Homo sapiens: one gene and its partner. The protein of the gene in region 2 interacts with the protein of the main gene of each other region in a biochemical or structural test. Each region holds a gene or a part of one and is shown on either strand. Other genes may lie near its edges.

Region 1 (8,169 bases), on a different chromosome or scaffold from region 2:
GGCATGTCAGAGGTCTTCACGGCAACTGCACCCATCACAGGCCCAAAGGCCTAGGAGGAAAGAGTGATTTCCTGGGCTGTGCCCAGGATCACTATGCTGTGTGCAGCCTAGGGACTTGGTGCCCTGTGTCCCAGCTGCTCCAGCCATGGCTGAAAGGGGCCAATGTAGAACTCAGGCCATGGCTTCAGAGGGTGCAAGCCCCAAGCCTTGGCAGCTTCCATGTGGTGTTGAGCCTGCGGGTGCACAGAAGAACTGAGGTTTGGGAACCTCTGCCTCGATTTCAGAGGATGTATGGAAATGCCTGGATGTCCAGGCAGAAGTTTGCTGCAGGTGCAGGGCTCTCATGGAGAACCTCTGCTGGGGCAGTGCAGAAGGAAAATGTGGGGTCAGAGCCTCTACACAGAGTCCCTACTGGGGCACCACCTAGTGGAGCTGTGAGAAGAGGGCCAAAATCTTCCAGACCCCAGAATGGTAGATCCACCAACAGCTTGCACCGTGTGCCTGGAAAAGCTGTAGACACTCAACATCAGCCCGTGAAAGCAGCCAGGAGGGAGGCTGTACCCTGGAGAGCCACAGGGGCAGAGCCGCCCAACACCATGGGAACCCACCTCTTGCATCGGTGTGACCTCGTTGTGAGACATGGAGTCAAAGGAGATCATTTTGGAGCTTTAAGATTTGACTGCCCCACTGGATTTCAGACTTGCGTGGGGCCTGTAGCCCCTTTGTTTTGGCCAATTTCTCCCATTTGGAATGGCTGTATTTACCCAATGCCTGTATCCCCATTGTTTCTAGGAAGTAACTAACTTGCTTTTGATTTTACAGGCTCATAGGCAGAAGGGACTTGCCTTGTCTCAGATGAGACGTCGAACTGTGGACTTTTGAGTTAATGCTGAAATGAGTTAAGACTTTGGGGGACTGTTGGGAAGGCATGATTAGTTTTGAAATGTGACGACATGAGATTTGGGAGGATCCAGGCAGAATGATATGGTTTGGCTGTGTCCCCACTCCAAACTCATCTTGAATTCCTATGTGTTGTGGGAGGGAGCCGGTGGGAGATAATTGAATCATGGGGGCAGGTCTTTCCTGTGCTGCTCTCGTGAGAGTGAGTAAGTCTCATGAGATCTGATGGTTTTGAAAAATGGGAGTCTCCCTACACAAACTCTCTCTTTGCCTGCTATCATCCATGTAAGACGTGACTTGCTCCTCCTTGCCTTCCACCATGATTGTGAGGCCTCCCCAACCATGTGGAATTGTAAGTCCATTAAACCTCTTCATTTTGTAAATTGCCCAGTATCTGGTATCTTCATCAGCAGTGTGAAAATGGACTAATACAATATCTAATGCAAGAATTGTTTACAGGTTTATCTTGAAACTTGTAGGTATAGAAAGTGATGGAGAATCTGGAGTTTGCTAGGGCTTTGGGAATGTAACACTCAGCCAAGGTTCCCTCAGAATTCTTTTTCAGGGACTCTGAAATCAAGGTATCTGGCATTCCCCTGAGAGCTCAAGTACTCATATTAAATGAACACCTTTTTGAGGACTTGTCTAAGCATCTACTTCATGCTGTAGCTTGAGGGTAAATGCTCCTGCTGTTCAGTACAAGCAACCCAGCGGCCTGGCTCCCTAGCTATCCCCTAATCAATTACACTGAATGTGCTCTAGGACCCCTCCTACCGCACCATCTCTTAGTCTGCAGTTCCCTTAGAACTCTGCCCACATGCATAATAGTCCTTTCCTAAGAATATTTTGAATAGAGGTTTCCCTCTCTTTCTGCTATATCATCTTTCAGAAGATTACTTGATTTCCAATAATACTCTTTTTTATTGGAATTTTTTTATTCTATTATTTCCATTCACTTTTATAGACCTAAAGTAGAAAGGGAGGGAGGTAGCTATATGTGCTCAGTCTGCCATCTTGATCCAGGATCTCTGGATCACCATTCTGCTTTTATCTCTTATTAGTATCCTGCTATTCCTAGACCCCCTGGGTTGCTTTCTATTATTGACTTTCCTGATGACACATAAGTTCAAATCTCTGGTACACAAGCCAAAAGTGACATGTATTCACGTTCTTGGGCCCTAGACCAATTGCTGTTGGTTGCCTACCTCTTGTACTCTTCCTATTTATAAATTTTTTCTCCTGTGAGTCTGGTGAATATGAATGAAGTCTCCAGAGGCTTATCATTCCCAAATTAAGGGAAATAATTTGAATTTTCAGTGTGCCAGTATAGGAAGCGGTGAACTATAGTTGTTAGAAACATAAGCTTAAATCCCAACTCCCTTGGCAAGTCACTTAATCTCTTTTCAAATTTAATTTAAAACTTTTTTTTTTTTTAAGAGACAGGTCTCTCTATGTTGCCCAGGCTGCTCTTGAACTCCTGGGCTCTAGTGATCCTCCTACGTCGGCCTCCCAAAGTGCTGGTATTACAGGCTTGAGCCTACTCAATATCTATGTCTTAGTTTCCTCATCTATAGAGTAGCCATATGAATTATCATTGTACCTTTAGGGTAGCTGTGAACATTCTTCCTGTAGGCAAATTCTAACACATGCTTACTAATATGGTAATAAATGTTAGCTATTACTATTATTAAAATCTACTCCCTTGGCCAGGCATGGTATCCCAGCACTTTGGGAGGCCAAGGTGGGTGGATCACTCGAGGTCAGGAGTTTGAGACCAGCCTGGGCAATGTGACAAAACCCCATCTCTGCTAAAAATAGAAAAATTAGCCAGGCGTGGTGGCATGCACCTGTAATCTCAGCTATTCAGGAGGCTGAGGCATGAGATCACTTGAACCCGGGAGGCACAGGTTGCAGTGAGCCAAGATCTCACCACTACAGCCTGGGTGACAGAGTAAGACTCTGTCTCAAAAAAAAAAAGAAAAAAAAGAAATCTACTCTCTGGACAGCAAAGATACAAGATGGAGTTTTCTCATGAGTCTTTCTTAACCTGGAAGTCTTTAGTGCTTAATGGAGCCTGATTAAAGAAAGTTCTACTTAGGGACTTCCCATCTGCACCACTGCTATGGATGCCATAGCAGAATAAGAGACATAAATGTCCCAGAGGTATATGTGTCTCCGAGGTATGAGATTCTTTTTTTTTTTGGAGACAGGGTCTCACTCTGTTGCCCAAGCTGGAGAGCAGTGGCATGATCATTGCTCACAGCAACCTCTGCCTCCCAGGTTCAAGCAATCCTCCCACCTCAGCCTCCCGAGTAGCTGGGACTACTGGGATATACCACCACTCCTGGCTAATTATTTTTTGTATTTTTTTGTAGAAGCAGGGTTTGGCCCTGTTGCCCAGGCTGGTCTCAAACTCCTGGGCTCAAGCAATCCACCCACCGCAGCCTTCCGAAGTGCTGGGATCACAGGTGTGAGCCACCGCACCCGGCAAGGTTTGAGATTCTTTATCTGAGCAGCAAATGAAGTCAGGAGGCTACAGCAGTCATAGGCTCAAAACAGAGTCAGAGGCTCAAGACAGCCTATCTAGGGTGATGAAATAAGAAATTAGGTAGTGAGGCTGGGTGCGGTGGCTCATGCCTGTAATCCCAGCACTTTGGGAGGTCAAGGTGGGCGGATCACCTGAGGTCAGGAGTTCGAGACCAGCCTGACCAACATGGAGAATTCCCATCTCTACTAAAAATACAAAATTAGCCAGGCATGGTGGCGCTTGCCTGTAATCCCAGCTACTCAGGAGGCTGAGGCAGGAGAATCGCTTGAACCTGGGAGGCAGAGGTTGTGGTAAGCCAAGGTCGCGCCATTGCACTCCAGCCTGGGCAACAAGAGCGAAACTCTGTCTCAAAAAAAAAAAAAAAAAAAAAAGAGGCCGGGCGTGGTGGCTCATGCCTGTAATCCCAACACTTTGGGAGGCCGAGGCAGGTGGATCACCCAAGGCCAGGAGTTCAAGACCAGCCTGGCAACATGGCAAAACACTGTCTCTACTAAAAATACAAAAATTAGCCAGGTGTGGTGATGGCGCATGTCTGCAATCCCAGCCATTTGGGAGGCTGAGGCAGGAGAATCACTTGAGCCCAGGAGGTGGAGGCTGCAGTGAGCCAAGTTCATGCCACTGCACTCCAGCCTGGGCAACAGAGCGAGACTGTCTCAAAAAAAAGGAAAAAAAAAAAAAGAAAAGAAATTAGGTAATGAAAATGTAAATCATTTTTTGTCCATCGAGGATGGTAACATATCCCTAAAAAGCCTGGGTAGGCTGTTTCTGGGACTTGTGAGTGTCAAGAAACAATTACATATTATTTCCTCGTCACTTACCTCTTAGTTGCTGGAGTTCCATATTCAAACTTTCAATGTTACTTTCACAGAACTTGAGATCCTCGAGGGTCTCTGCTCTTGATGATTCATCCTGCTTCTCCTCCAGCATGAGGTTTAGCTCTTCTTGAGCTCTACTGTACATATCCAAGTCCCGCTCCATTTCCTCAATCCTCACCAGCACTAAGGGGCATGGGGAGGTCTGGTCCAGACTCCTTCCCATATGACCAGGGCCCTCCTTTTCTAAGGTCTCACAGGTAGGACGGTGTCGAGATAGGAGCTTGGGGGATACCGCATTCGTTCTCTGCTGTGCTGAGGGAGGCAGGGGAGCTGGGCGAGAGGGTCGCACCACCAAGGGTGGTGCAGGTTTTAGGTTCTGGTCAACCAGCAAATGGGGAGAAGTGGATACCGGAGTACAGGGACGAGGTGGCGGTGGCCTTAGGGCCTTTCTCCTTTCCGGCAGCTCCTGCTCGGTGATTAACTTTGAGGAACCTCGGACAATATCCTTCTCAGAGTTAAAGTCCATGATTGAAAAGTGGCGTAAAATTTTATCTGGCTCTGTGCCGGGCCCTGCCAAGCTCTTCTCAAACTCGATCAGCTGTTGTGTCAGCTTCGAGTCCAGGTCAGTGCTGCCGTCTCCCTGTGAATGTGTTGCTGCTTCCATAACAAGCCCTTGGGCTTGCGGACCAGGCTTCATCTCCAATCTCTCTGAGATGGAGTAAACACTGGACGTGTGGTGCTTTTTAGTATAACTTGCTAGGTTGTGGAGCTGAGGACTTGATTGTCTGGGTTTGACTACCCTTGAAGCTGAAACAGAAGAGCCCCTGTAAAGAGGGAGCACTGGCTTCTGAAGAGTTTTTAGCTGGGAATACATTCTTTTGGGAGGTAGGCTGGCATAGTCTCTAGTCCTTGCTTCTAGGGGAAGAAGGTCGGGGTACTGTTCTGAGTGCGGGTGGCTCCCTCCCACTGTAGAATAATACTGGCTTTTCTGCAAGTTGGGATGAAAAGGGACCTGAGGTTGGGAGGAAATACCATTGACTACTTCTGTAGGGTCAGATGTGGGAGAGTCTGTGGCAAGAGGCATTTCCCACTCCACGCCTGGGCTTCTCGGGGGCCCTCCTGCGGTGTCCTCGTCCTGATAAGAGTTTCTGTCTGTGTCATACTCTGAAGTCAGATGACCGAGGGGAGAAGTGGGTGCTTCAGAAATAATGCAGTCAGGCTCCTCGGCCTCATGGTCACTGGTTTCATGTCTTTGTTCCTCTACTCCTAAGGTGTTCTCCAAACAATCCAAAGAAGTTTCCGGGATCCTGGCAAGGCTGCCTTCCTGGGGCAGAGCCATGGTTTCCTCCACCCGTGTGTCAGGACATAATTTCACAAACCGGTAAGGAAAGATGCCTGTCCTGCCCTTCAGGGATCCTTCCAGCCAGCCATCTTCCAAGGTCGCCAGAATTCGGATTTTATCCCCGACCTCGAAATCCAGCTCATTTGGCTCCAGGGCTTGGAATCTGTACAGGGCGACCCCATAGGTCCCTGGCTCCTCCTCATCCTCATCCGGCCCTATCTCTTCTTCTCCTACAGGGGTATCTACTTCACCATTAACAATGCAGTCATCTTGATTTCCAGAACTTACTGACTCATCCACAGTCCTCAGGGGCCCCAACAGCTCTACAAAACCTTCTGGAAAAATGCCTCTTCGGCCCTCTAACTCCCCTTCAAACCAGCCTGGTTCAGGAACTCCAATAATGGTGATCACATCCCCTTCCCTGAAGTCCAGCTCTTCATCCAGCTGAGCAGAAAGCCCCATTAGGGCCCGGGCTTGTCCCATGGAATATTCCGGAATCTGAAACAGGGCGCTCTGGGAGTGCCACTGCCGGCTCTGTGAGGAGAGGCAGAGCTCGCGGACACATGAAGATGGGAAGAAGCCCCGTGCGCCCCAGCAGCTTCGGCCCTGCAGCCAGCCTGCAGTGGGAATGCCATCGAGAATCACCAGGTCACCTAAAGAAAAGAGGAGCAGAGATGGTGACCTCAGTCATCACCCAGCAGAACATTATCACGACTAATAGTGCAACCTCTCATTTTAAACAGCTACCAAATTCAAGGAAATACACCTAGAGCTTTAGGAGCATGAACAATTTTGACAATTTATTGAATTGGAGCAGTTCTATAAACCTGTAGTTTTCAGAGTGTTCCATGGAACCCTACAGGTGGGTCTCCAAGATCCTAGCAGAGAATCTGTGAGGTCAAAACCATTCTCATAATAACACTAAGACTTTATCTACATATTTTACTCTGCTGACTTTTGTAATCTCTGTGAAAAAGCAATGGTGATTAAAACTGCTGGCCAGCTAGGTGCTGTGGCTTACACCAGAAATCCGAGCACTTTGGGAGGCCAAGGCAGGAGGATCGCTTGAGACCAGGAGTTCAAAACCAGCCTGGGCAACATGTCAAGACCTTGTCTCTACAATAAATTTAAAAATTAGCTGTGCACTGTGGCTCATGCCTGTAGTCCCAGCTATTCAGGAGGCTGAGGTGGGAGGATAGCTTGAACCCAGGAGGTCAAGGCTGCAGTAAGCTGTGATTTCACCACTACGCTCCAGTCTGGGTGACAGAGCAACACTTGTCTCAAAAATAAAAATAAAATGGCTGGGCGCGATGGCTCATGCCTGTGATCCCAGCACTTTGGGAGGCCAAGGCAGGCGGATCACTTGAGGTCAGGAGTTCGAGAGCAGCCTGGTCAACATGGTGAAACACCATCTCTACTAAAAATACAAAAATTAGCTGAGCATGGTGGCACGTGCCTGTAGTCCCAGCTATTCAGGAGGCTGAGGCAGAAATTAAACTCAGGAGGCAGAGGTCGCAGTGAGCCGAGATCGCACCACTGCACTCCAGCTTGGGCAACAGAGCAAGACTCCATCTCAAAAAAATAATAAATTAATTAAAAACTGCTGGCAATTCATAAGCAAAGGCAGTAGCCACAAATTACATGAATAGTCACTGTATGGTCATCGTATTCTTCACAACCATGTACTCACAGTTTTTAAAAAAGCCATTTTCAGTTAAGAAGCAATACAAATTATGCACTGTGCTAAATCTCAACCCTTAAGAACAATTCTTTTGTAATATTCTGTGTGACAATATAGGAATTACACATAAAGCACTTTTACTGCTGAGGAGAAGCACGAGTAACTGAGTTATATGCCTGAACCGTCTGTTTATTTTCACATAACACCATTTTATGTGCAAGAATGAATAACAGACAACTATGTTTATTCAGACTTAGATATCTGGCAGATGTTTCCTCCAAAATGAAAGTGAGTCTGAAACATCAAGGAGAACAAATGACAGTATTTGTTGCCAATGATAAAATTCCAACTTCCAAGAGAAAATGAGAATTTTGGAAAACTTGTATCTACTACCATGGGCTTGGCAGCTTTCCCATACTTAAAGATTCTTCTGATGAGATAGTAACAAATATGATTTTTTCACATTGTATGTTGAAATGGTCAACATTTGGAATAACTGAGTAGCTAATTGAATCAATATTTCCTAAATGACAAATGCATGCTGGTATAAAATCATTCATGGCTAAAAGATTCACACTCCAAAAGCAAGATAGATTAATGAATTTTAGTGTAATATTATGAAAGTTCACCGACGTAGTTTCAGATCCCACACTGCAATTAACTCGTAAGAAATTACCAATCGTTGAATTTTGGTGCAGTGTCAACGATGAATATTTGCAATTATTTGAAAAGACTATTAAAATACCTTTTCCTGTCTCCCATTGCATATTTGTGTAAGGCTGGATTTTCTTCACATAATTCCATGAAAACAACACATTGCAACAGATTGAATACAGATGCAAATAGAATCTGGTTTTCTTTTAGTAAGTTGAACATTAAAAAT
Region 2 (9,563 bases):
CCCTGCTATGCATTAAGATTGCAGTGGAGCCGGGCGCGGTGGCTCACGCCTATAATCCCAGCACTTTGGGAGGCCGAGGTGGGTGGATCACAAGGTCAGGGGTTCGAGACCAGCCTGACCAACATGGTGAAACCCCGTCTCTACTAAAAATACAAAAATTAGCTGGGCGTGGTGGCGGGCACCTGTAATCCCAGCTACTCAGGAGGCTGAGGCAGGAGAATTGCTTGAACCTGGGAGGCAGAGCTTGCAGTGAGCCAAGATCATGCCACTGCACTCCAGCCTGGGTCACAAAGCAAGATTCCATCTGAAAAAAAAAAAAAAGATTGCAGTGGAACTGGGGCTTGGGAGCTGTTAGGGTTTTCACCTCCCTCAGCAATGAGGTTTTGAGGCGAGGAGAAAACCAGGGCCGGCAGGGTGCAGTGGTTCATGCCTGTAATGCCAGCACTTTGTGAGACTAAGGCGGGTGGATCACTTGAGGTCAGGAGTTCGAGACCAGCCAGGCCAACATGGCAAAATCCCGTCTCTACTAAAAATACAAAAGTTATCCGGGCAAGGTGGTGGGCACCTGTAATCCCAGCTGCTCAGGAGGCTGAGACACAAGAATCACTTGAACCCGGAAAGCAGAGGTTGCAGTGAGCTGAGATCATGTCACTGCACTCCAGCCCGGGTGACAGAGGAAGACTCCATCTCAAAAAAAAGAAGAAGAAGAAGAAGGTCGGGCGAGGTGGCTCATGCCTGTAATCCCAGCAATTTGGGAGGCCGAGGCAGGTGGATCACTTGAGGTCAGGAGTTTGAGACCAGCCCGGTCAACATGGTGAAACACTGTCTCTACTAAAAAAAAAAAAAAAAAATACAAAAATTAGCCAGGCGTGGTGGCATGTGCCTGCAATCCCAGCACTTTGGGAGGCCAAGGCAGGTGGATCACTTGAAGTCAGGAGTTCAAGACCAGCCTAGTCAACATGGTGAAACTCCATCTCTACTGAAAAAAAAAAAAAAAAAACAAAAATTAACCGGGCATGGTGGCACGTGCCTGTAATCCCAGCACTTTGGGAGGCTGAGGTAGGTGGATCAATTGAGGTCAGGAGTTCGTAACCATCCTGGCCAACATGGTGAAACCCCATCTCTACTTTAAAAAAATACAAAAATTAGCCAGGCATGGTGGTGCGTGCCTGTAATCCCAGCTATTGGGGAGGCTGAGGCAGGAGAATCACTTAAACCCTGGAGGCGGAGGTTGCAGTGAGCCGAGATTGTGTCTCTGCACTGCAGCCTGGGCAACAGAACAAGACTGTATCTCAAAAAAACAAAAAGAAAACAGAAAGAAAACCAGGGCCTCCTTTAATTATTGCTGCACATCTCTCCTCACATCACCAAGCCAGCCATGAACAGCTGTTGGCTGCTGCCTTTTAGCTGTGACCGCTCTTTCTGGGGACTCTGGCGGCCACAGATGGGCCTACCCTATATAGCATGGTGGTTAAGATTCTAGAGTCATTTCCCTTGAAACCACGTGGGACTTGGTGCAATGCATTTCACCTGAGCCTCAGTTTTCTGTGCCTGTTAAATGGGCACAATGATTACTGGCCACCCCAAAGGTATCCAATAGAAAGTGTTCAACTCAGTTCCAGGATCATGGTTGTTTTGGGGGTTGAGGGGCTGCATGGAGTTGGGGGATGTTGCAGGGTCTCGGCTTCGAGAGCCTCACTCACTCGCAAAGAATGATGCCATCTTTGAGGCCGTCCATGAAGTTGTTGCCGATGCGACGGCCTGTCACCCCCTCGATCCACTCTCTCAGCTCCTGCTCCCGCTGGTGGTCATACTTCTGGGCCAGCTGGGGCGAGGGGAGGGCAGGGGGCACAGAGAAAGGGGTGAGGATGCATTGGGGGCAGCCTGGGCTCCCTGGGTCCTGTCTGAACTTCCTAGAGCCTGATCTCCCTCGTCCTTCCCAACTAAGGCAATTTTGCCCCAGATCCATAGTTGGGGGATGGGGGCTGGGGCGGGCTGAGAGCCAGGGCTGAGGTGGCACCTGCCCAGGGGGCCATTCCGGGCATTCTGAGGTTTGGCACCAGGGAATGTAGATGAGGGGTGGGGTGTGGGGAGCTGGATCCTCTGAGCTAGAGGGGTGGCACCCGGCACCCTGGTTTTTCGCCCAGGCCAAACTTGGGGCTTCTCTTCCTCTAGCCCTGCCCCCTCTGTGCCCCCTGTTGGAAGAGAGGGCACCTCAGGAAGGGAAGAAGGATGTCTAAGGAGGTGTCCCTGGGTGCTGGCTTGCAGAGGAGTGCTGGTCATACATCTCTGTCTCTCCGTGTCCCCCAGGTCTTCAGCTCCAGGGCTCTGTCTCTGGTTAGTGGTGGGGGCTTGTCTCTGTCTTAGCCCCCACCCCTTGCACGTCTGTATGTCTCTCTCCCTCTTATCCCCCCGACTCCTCTGTCTCTCTCTTCCCCAGCGCTGTCTTTTCTTGGCCCAGTCTTGGGTCCCCATCTCTCTAGGTGGCTAGTCCCTGTCTGGCCAGGGGTAGGGCTCCTGGGTCTTGTATATCTGCCTCTCTAGGTCTTTCTCTGTCTCCAGGTTTCCTGCCTGGGGTGGGGGTGGTGGGGCTCTGTCTCCTCTCCCTGCCCCTCCATCCTTGTCTAGGTCTTATCTCGCTCCTGGCTCGCCCTCCCCCGTCTGTCCCTAGGGTGTCTCAGGCTCCCAGTATCTCTGTCTGCCTCTCCCCCCACCTCCCTGCTTTTCCCTCTCTCCACTGTCCCCCCCCTCCCCCACTCCACTCCCATTTCTCCAGAACCCTCCGCCCAAGCCCAGCCAGGCTCCCAGCCCCTAGGGGACCGGGCTGCCTCTTCTTCTCCCGGGTGAGTGGGGGGAGGTGGGAGGGGCGGCCCCCTCACCTGGCCCTGGCCCTGCCGCCCCCCACGCCACCAGCCCGGCTTTATAAAGCAAACCGGCCCTTATATAGCGTGGCCCGGGCTCCCCGAGGCCGCCTTATAAGGCGCGGCGTCTCTGCGCGGCTCTGCGCGGCTCTGGGGCCGGCGCTGGGGGGGAGGAGGGCGGCGCTGGGATCTGTCTCTCGCCCGAGGACCCGCCCCCCACCAGCCCCCTCCTCCAGCCCCGAGATCCCTCGACCCAGGTTCCAACCCAGTCCCCCACTTCCTCACCATGGGACCCTGGGAAAAGCCACCCTGAGCCTCAGTGTTCCCCTCTGTCAAATGGGGCAGGAACTCCTCCCTCGGCAATACTGTTGGGGCGATTCCAGTGGGCTGGAAACTTAAAGTTCTCCAGCTGGGAGAAGCTGAGCCCATCCTGGTGTATGGGGGGTGAGTCCAGGGTCCGAGCGCTGTACCTGCTTTACCTGGGACCCCAGCTATTTGCCTCTCCTCTCCGAACCTCAGTTTACCCAACCATAGCATGAAGGTGGTGTCCAGGTATCTTCCTAGCTCCACAGTCAGGAGACCCCTGCCGCACTTCTGATGCCCGCTTCCTGCCTTTCACCGTCCCCCTCTGTCTTCAGGATCTCCCACACTTTCACGGCGTCACTTCCCAGGTACCCCAGCACTCAAGCGCTCCCCAATTTCTTTGTCAGGCCGGGGGATATGGAAAAATCAACAAGTCTTCCCCCTATGTTGTTCCCCCCAAGAACACGAAGGGTTAACAGAAGACTGATCAGGTGGGTATCTTTGCAATGGACTGACCCCCTCTGTTTATGTGTGGCTGTGTGCCCCCCCATTCCAGCCCCAACCATAGCTGGGGGCTCCGGGATGTTCAGGGGGAGACAGGCAGCCCCTATCCCATATCACTCCCTTTTCCCCTCTCAGTTTCCAAGTCACATAGGATAGGCAGGAGGGGGTTCAAGGGACCCCAAGCTCAGGGCTCTGGCCTGGCAGGACGTGTGGGCCAGGCCAGGGAGGCCCTCCAGCCCTACCTTGTTCTTAACCTCGGCTGACAGCCCGTAGGCAGGGCCTCGGTTGAAGTGAGCAGAGGACATGCTGGCCGGTGGGCTCTGGCGGGGGCAGTGGCGGCACTGACGCTGAGAACAGAGGCAGCGGCTGAAGTTCCGTCTGCACACTCTTCCCTCCTCACATGTTTTTGAAGCTCCGGAGGCGACCCGGGTCTCTTCCAGGGCCGTTCCATTGGCTGTAGGGGCCTGCCAAGGGGCGGGGCACCTCCCCCCACAACCTCAGCTGCCTTCCCCTCCCCTTGTGATGTCAGGCCCTTGGTATTGGGAGCTGATTGTGTCATTGTTTCCACCTAGGGGGGCAGCCTGCGTTATTCTGGGGGGGCTTGGTCAGACAGAGACCAGCCTTCTTCCACCCACCCCTCCCACTGTCCATTGGGCCTCTGGCTGGGTCTGAGTCTCTTTGTCTCTGAGGTCATCTCTCTTTATCTCTCTGGAGTCTTGAAGCAGGACTGACACCCAAGGTAGTTTAGTGAGCACCATCCCGGGTTTATCTCCAGATACCAACAGTCTATAGCCTTAGGTAAGCCCCTTCTCCTCTCTGGGCCTCTATGGCCACATCTGTAAAATGGGCTAACGATAGTGCCTGCCTCATGGGAGAGTTGTAAAGATCAGAAGAATATGCCTGTTACATGCCCAGCACAGTGCCCGGCACAGCAGAGGGACTCGGGCCATAGCAGTCTTTTTAAGGCAAGGTTTCACTCTGTCCCCTCGGCTGGAGTGCAGTGGCACAATCACAGCTCACTGCAGCCTTGACCTCCCAGGCTCAAGTGATCCTCCCATCTCAGCCCATCCAAGTAGTTAGAATTGCAGACTTGTGCCACCAACCTGGCTAATTTTATTTTATTTTTTTAGAGATGGGGTCTCGCTATGTTGCCCGGGGTCTCGCTATGTTGCCCAGGCTGGTCTCAAATTTCTGGGCTCAAGCAATCTGCCCGCCTTGGCCTCCCAAAACGCTGGGATTTACAGGCATGAGTCACCATGCCCAGCCTATAGCATTCTTTATGCTGAGGGTCCAGCACCCCAGTTCTGTCTCCTCCAGCCCCTCATAAGGACCTGGGGGAGAAGAGATCCTGGGTCTCACCCTCCCCATCCACTTGTGTGTCACCTGAACTACAGGGTGACTTTGTTGGCAAGTCCCAGGCCGTGAACTGTGTCCCTGTCAAACAGCCCTACCCAGCCAGATCTCACCCCTGGACCACAGGGGTGGATGCTATGCCCACATCATGCCCCACATGGCAAGGCCATGTTTGTGACACTTGGATGACATGTCTGCAACCTGCCACACACTAATGATATGTTGAGGATATGCAGTTTATCGGTCACATGCTAATGGCATGGCTGCAATATGCCACAGACTACAGCCCTTATGTCAGGCCATGTTCCAACTCTGTACATATATCCATTCAATTCTCATGACGCCCTCAGAGATGGACACTGTTATTATTATTATTATTATTATTATTATTATTATTTGGAGACAGAGTCTCTATTCCCCAGGCTGGAGTGCAGTGATGCTATCTCGGCTCACTGCAACCTCCACCTCCTGGGTTCAAGCGATTCTCCTGCCTCAGCCTCCCAAGTAGCTGGGATGACAGGTGTCTGCCACCACGACTGGCTATTTTTTGTATTTTTAGTAGAGACGGGGTTTTGCCATGTTAGCCAGGCTGGTCTCGAACTCCTGACCTCAGTTGATCTGCCCACCTCGGCCTTGCAAAGTGCTGGGATTACAGGCGTGAGCCACCGTGCCCAGCTGACACTGTTATTATTAATACAAGTACTTTGCTTTACAGGTGGGGAAACTGAGGCACGGGGGCTTGGAATCACTTTTTCAGCGTCACACAGCAGGCCAGGGGCAGAGGAGAATTTGAGACCATGCTCCATGAACCTCAACTATGAGGCTAAGGTGGGGTTTCTCAACCTCCACACTGTTGACAGCTGAGGCTGGATAATTCTTCATGGTTGGGGGGCTGCCTTGGGCATTCATTGTAAGACTTCAAGCAGCATGCCTGGCCTCTACCTGCTACATGCCAGTAGCACTCTCTTAGTCCTAATAAACAGAAATGTTGAGGCACTGCGGCAGGACCCTGTAGTCCCAGCTACTAAGGAGGCTGAGGTGGGAGGATCCCTTGAGCCCAGGAGTTTGAGAACCATCTGGCCAAGATAGCAAGACCATGGTCTCTAAAAAAGAAAAATTAAAAGAAGAAATGTCTACACACATTGCCAATGTCCCATGATTGGGGTCGGGGTGGAAGCAGATCACCCCTGTTTGCCAACCACTGAGCTAAGGCAATGTGCTAGTTGATGGCATGTCATGATATGTTGAACATACACGAAAATACATAAAATACGAGGCCAAGGCGGGAGGATCGCTTGAGCCCTGGAGTTCGAGACCCGAGACCAGCTTAGGCAACATAGCGAGACCCCGTCTCTATTTAAAAAAAAAAAAAAGAAAAAATAGAAAGTACATAAAATGAGCTAACAATTAGCACCTGCTACGTACTAAGAGCTTTGAGCCTGTTAACTCATTCCTCACGACAGCCTTATGAGGTGGGTCTATACGAGGCACAGAGAGGTGACGCCGAATGGCCGGGTCACACAGCTCGAGGGTGGCAGGGGCGGGATTCGAACGCGCAGATTCCTGGATCCCTCCCAAACTGAGCGGCCCTCGGGGGCCGCAGTTCGCTACTGCGCATGTGAGGACCTGCAGCCGGCGCCCCCTGGCGGCCCGGGAGGGGCGGGGGCGGGACCTGGCGAGGTCCAGGCGGCGGTGACGTCACGCGATGACTCACTCGGCCCCGCCCCCCGGCCCGCGGCCTCTTGGCCATTTATAGAATCTGCACGGACTCTGAAGTCACGGCCCAGGCACGACGGGGGCGGGGTGGGGGAGCTCTTGGCGTGCCCCCCAACGGGGCAGCCCCGGGTACCCCCAGGGGGCAGCCCTTTCGGGGACTGCCTTGTCCCTCTGATTGTAGTAGGTCTGTGTCTCTGTATCTCCGTCTCTGGGTCGCTGAGCCTTTTTCTGTCTCTGCCTTTGTCTCTGTGTCTCTGTTTCTGTGCCTGGTCTTTGAGTCATTCTGTTTCTCTTCATGTCGCTGTCGCTGTATTGTCCGTCTCTCTTCGCGTCTCTGTCTGGTAGATGGGGGTAGAGGCATTAGAGGGGGCTGATCCCATATCGAGGCCCCAATCCCAGTAGACACCCGAGTGTCATCCCTTATTCGCTCCTTTCTGGCATTTTCCAGGCTCTAGCCCCTCTGTGCCTCAGTTTACCATCTAAATGAGAAGTGTAGGATCTTGTAAGAGGCACGGTTTCCCGAAGGGTCTAGGACAGTCATTGTAGGAAAGCCATGCCTCTCCTCAACTTCAGGGGACCCCCTAAAACCTTCCTGATGCTCAGAACCATTTAAAACTCACACTTGGCCGGGCGTGGTTTCTCACGCCTGTAATCCCAGCACTTTGAGAGGCCAAGGCGGGTGGATCACCTGAGGTCAGTAGTTCAAGACCAGCCTGACCAACATGGTGAAACCCCGTGTCTACTAAAAATACAAAATTAGCCGGGCATGGTGGTACATGCCTGTAATCCCAGCTACTCGGGAGGCTGAGGCAGGAGAATTGCTTGAACCCGGCATGTCAGGCAGAGGTTGCAGTGAGCCAAGATCACACCACTGCACTCCAGCCTGGGCCACGGGAGTGAGACTCTGACTCAAAAAATGTAAAAATAAAAATAAAACCCACACTCACACGTGTTTGTCTGTGTGTTTTGGGGAAAGTCAAAGCCCTGCTCTGCACCGGCCTATCTTGGCATCCTGCTCTGCAAGCTCCCTCCTCACGAAGCTTTCCTATCCAGAAATCTGGCAGAGGCTCTTGTTCCTAAAGGCTTCTGTTATGGGAACACTCACTCCATGCCAGCCACAATCTCTTTTAATCCTCACCATCACCTTCTGAGGGTAGAAACTCATAGGTCCATTTTATAGATGGGAAACTCAAGGTTCAGAGAAGCCAAGCCACCCTCCCAGGTAACACTGTTTGTACCTTTTCTTCCAAGTCCCTCCAGATGTGCTGTTTCTTCTTCTTCTTCTCCCTCTTCTTCTTCTTCTTCTTTCTTCTTTCTTCTTTCTTCTCCTTCTCCTTCTCCTTCTTTCTTCTTTCTTCTTTCTTTTCTTCCTCTTCCTCTTCCGCTGCTGCTGCTGCTCCTTCTCCTTCTCCTTCTTCTTCCTCTTCTTCTTCCTCTTCCTCTTTTTCTTCTTGTTCTCCTTCTTCTTCCTCTTCTTCTGCTGCTGCTTCTCCTCCTCCTCCTTCTTCTTCTTTCTTCTTTCTTCCTTCTCCTCCTCCTTCTCCTTCTTCCCCTTCTCCCTTCTCTCTTCTCCCTTCTCCTTATTTCTTCTTCTTCTTCTCCTTTTTTTTTTTTTTTTGAGTCAGAGTATCGCTCTGTCGCTCAGGTTGGAGTGGCATGATCTCGGTTCACTGCAACCTCCACCTCCTGGTTTCAAGCAATTCTGGAGCCTCAGCCTCCCAAGTAGCTGGGATTACAGGCACCCGCTACCACGCTGGGCTACAGATGTGTTTCTTGAGTCCCCAAACATGTTCCCACCTCAGGGTCTTTACAATAGCAGTTCCTGCCACCTGGAACACATTTCTGCAAGATGCCTGCATGGCCTCTCCCCAACTTCATTCAGTCTCTGCTCTAATATCACCTCTCAGAGAGGCCTTCCCTGACCACCTGCTGTAAAATAATAGCATCTCTCACCCCCAGACTGACTGTGAGTGGGTGGACAGGGAGGGAGCTGTTCACTTATAGTCTGGGTGCAGTGGCTCGTGTCTGTAATTCCAGCACTTTGGGAGGCCAAGATGGGCAGATTGTTTGAGGCCAGCAGTTCAAGACCAGCCTGGGAGACATGGCAGGGCCCTGCCTCTACAAAAAAAAAAAAAAGAGAGAGAGCTTTTTAAAAAAGTGCATTTTGGGAGGGCAAGGCAGGAGGATTGCTTGAGCCCAGGAGTTGGAGGCTACAGTGAGCTATGATCATGACACTGCTTATTTTTTTTTTTTTTTTTTTTTTTACAGAATCTCACTCTGTCACCCAGGCCGGAGTACAGTGGCATGATCTCAGCTCACTGCAACTTCCACCTCCCAGGTTCAAGCAATTATCCTGCCTCAGCCTCCTGAGTAGCTGGGATTACAGGTGCCCACCACCATACCGGGCTAATTTTTGTATTTTTAGTAGAGATGGGGTTTCACCATGTTGGCCAGACTGGTCTCGAACTACTGACCTCAGGTAATCTGCTTGCCTTGGCCTCCCAAAGTGCTGGGATTACAGGCATGAGCCACTGTGTCCAGCCATGCCATTGCATTTTAGTTTGGGTGAAAAATAAATAAATAAGAAAAGAAAAGAATGCTTGACGGCCGGGTGTGGTGGCTCACGCCTGTAATCCCAGCACTTTGGGAGGCCAAGGCAGGCGGATCACGAGGTCAGGAGATCGAGACCATCCTGGCCAACATGGTGAAACCCTGTCTCTACTAAAAATACAAAAAATTAGCCGGGCGTGGTGGCGGGCGCCTGTAGTCCCAGCTACTTGGGAGGCTGAGGCAGGAGAATGGCGTCAAGCTGTGGGGCAGAGCTTG

Evidence for each region. Proteins that work in one complex are often made in the same cells at the same time.
Region 1: the proteins of CNN1 (region 2) and DNMBP form a complex in vitro, tested with the Homo sapiens proteins (one study listed by BioGRID).

Annotation. Positions count from the first base shown.
Region 1 is NC_000010.11:99,950,948-99,959,116, forward strand, and holds part of DNMBP (dynamin-binding protein), read right to left. Parts: intron 8,052-8,169; exon of another isoform or gene 6,259-8,051; coding exon 4,267-6,258; intron 1-4,266. UniProt on the Homo sapiens protein: Plays a critical role as a guanine nucleotide exchange factor (GEF) for CDC42 in several intracellular processes associated with the actin and microtubule cytoskeleton.
Region 2 is NC_000019.10:11,533,338-11,542,900, reverse strand, and holds the start of CNN1 (calponin-1), read right to left. Parts: upstream 4,051-9,563; 5' UTR 3,974-4,050; coding exon 3,911-3,973; intron 3,607-3,910; exon of another isoform or gene 3,332-3,606; intron 2,917-3,331; exon of another isoform or gene 2,476-2,916; coding exon of another isoform or gene 2,215-2,475; intron 1,826-2,214; coding exon 1,704-1,825; intron 1-1,703. UniProt on the Homo sapiens protein: Thin filament-associated protein that is implicated in the regulation and modulation of smooth muscle contraction. It is capable of binding to actin, calmodulin and tropomyosin. The interaction of calponin with actin inhibits the actomyosin Mg-ATPase activity.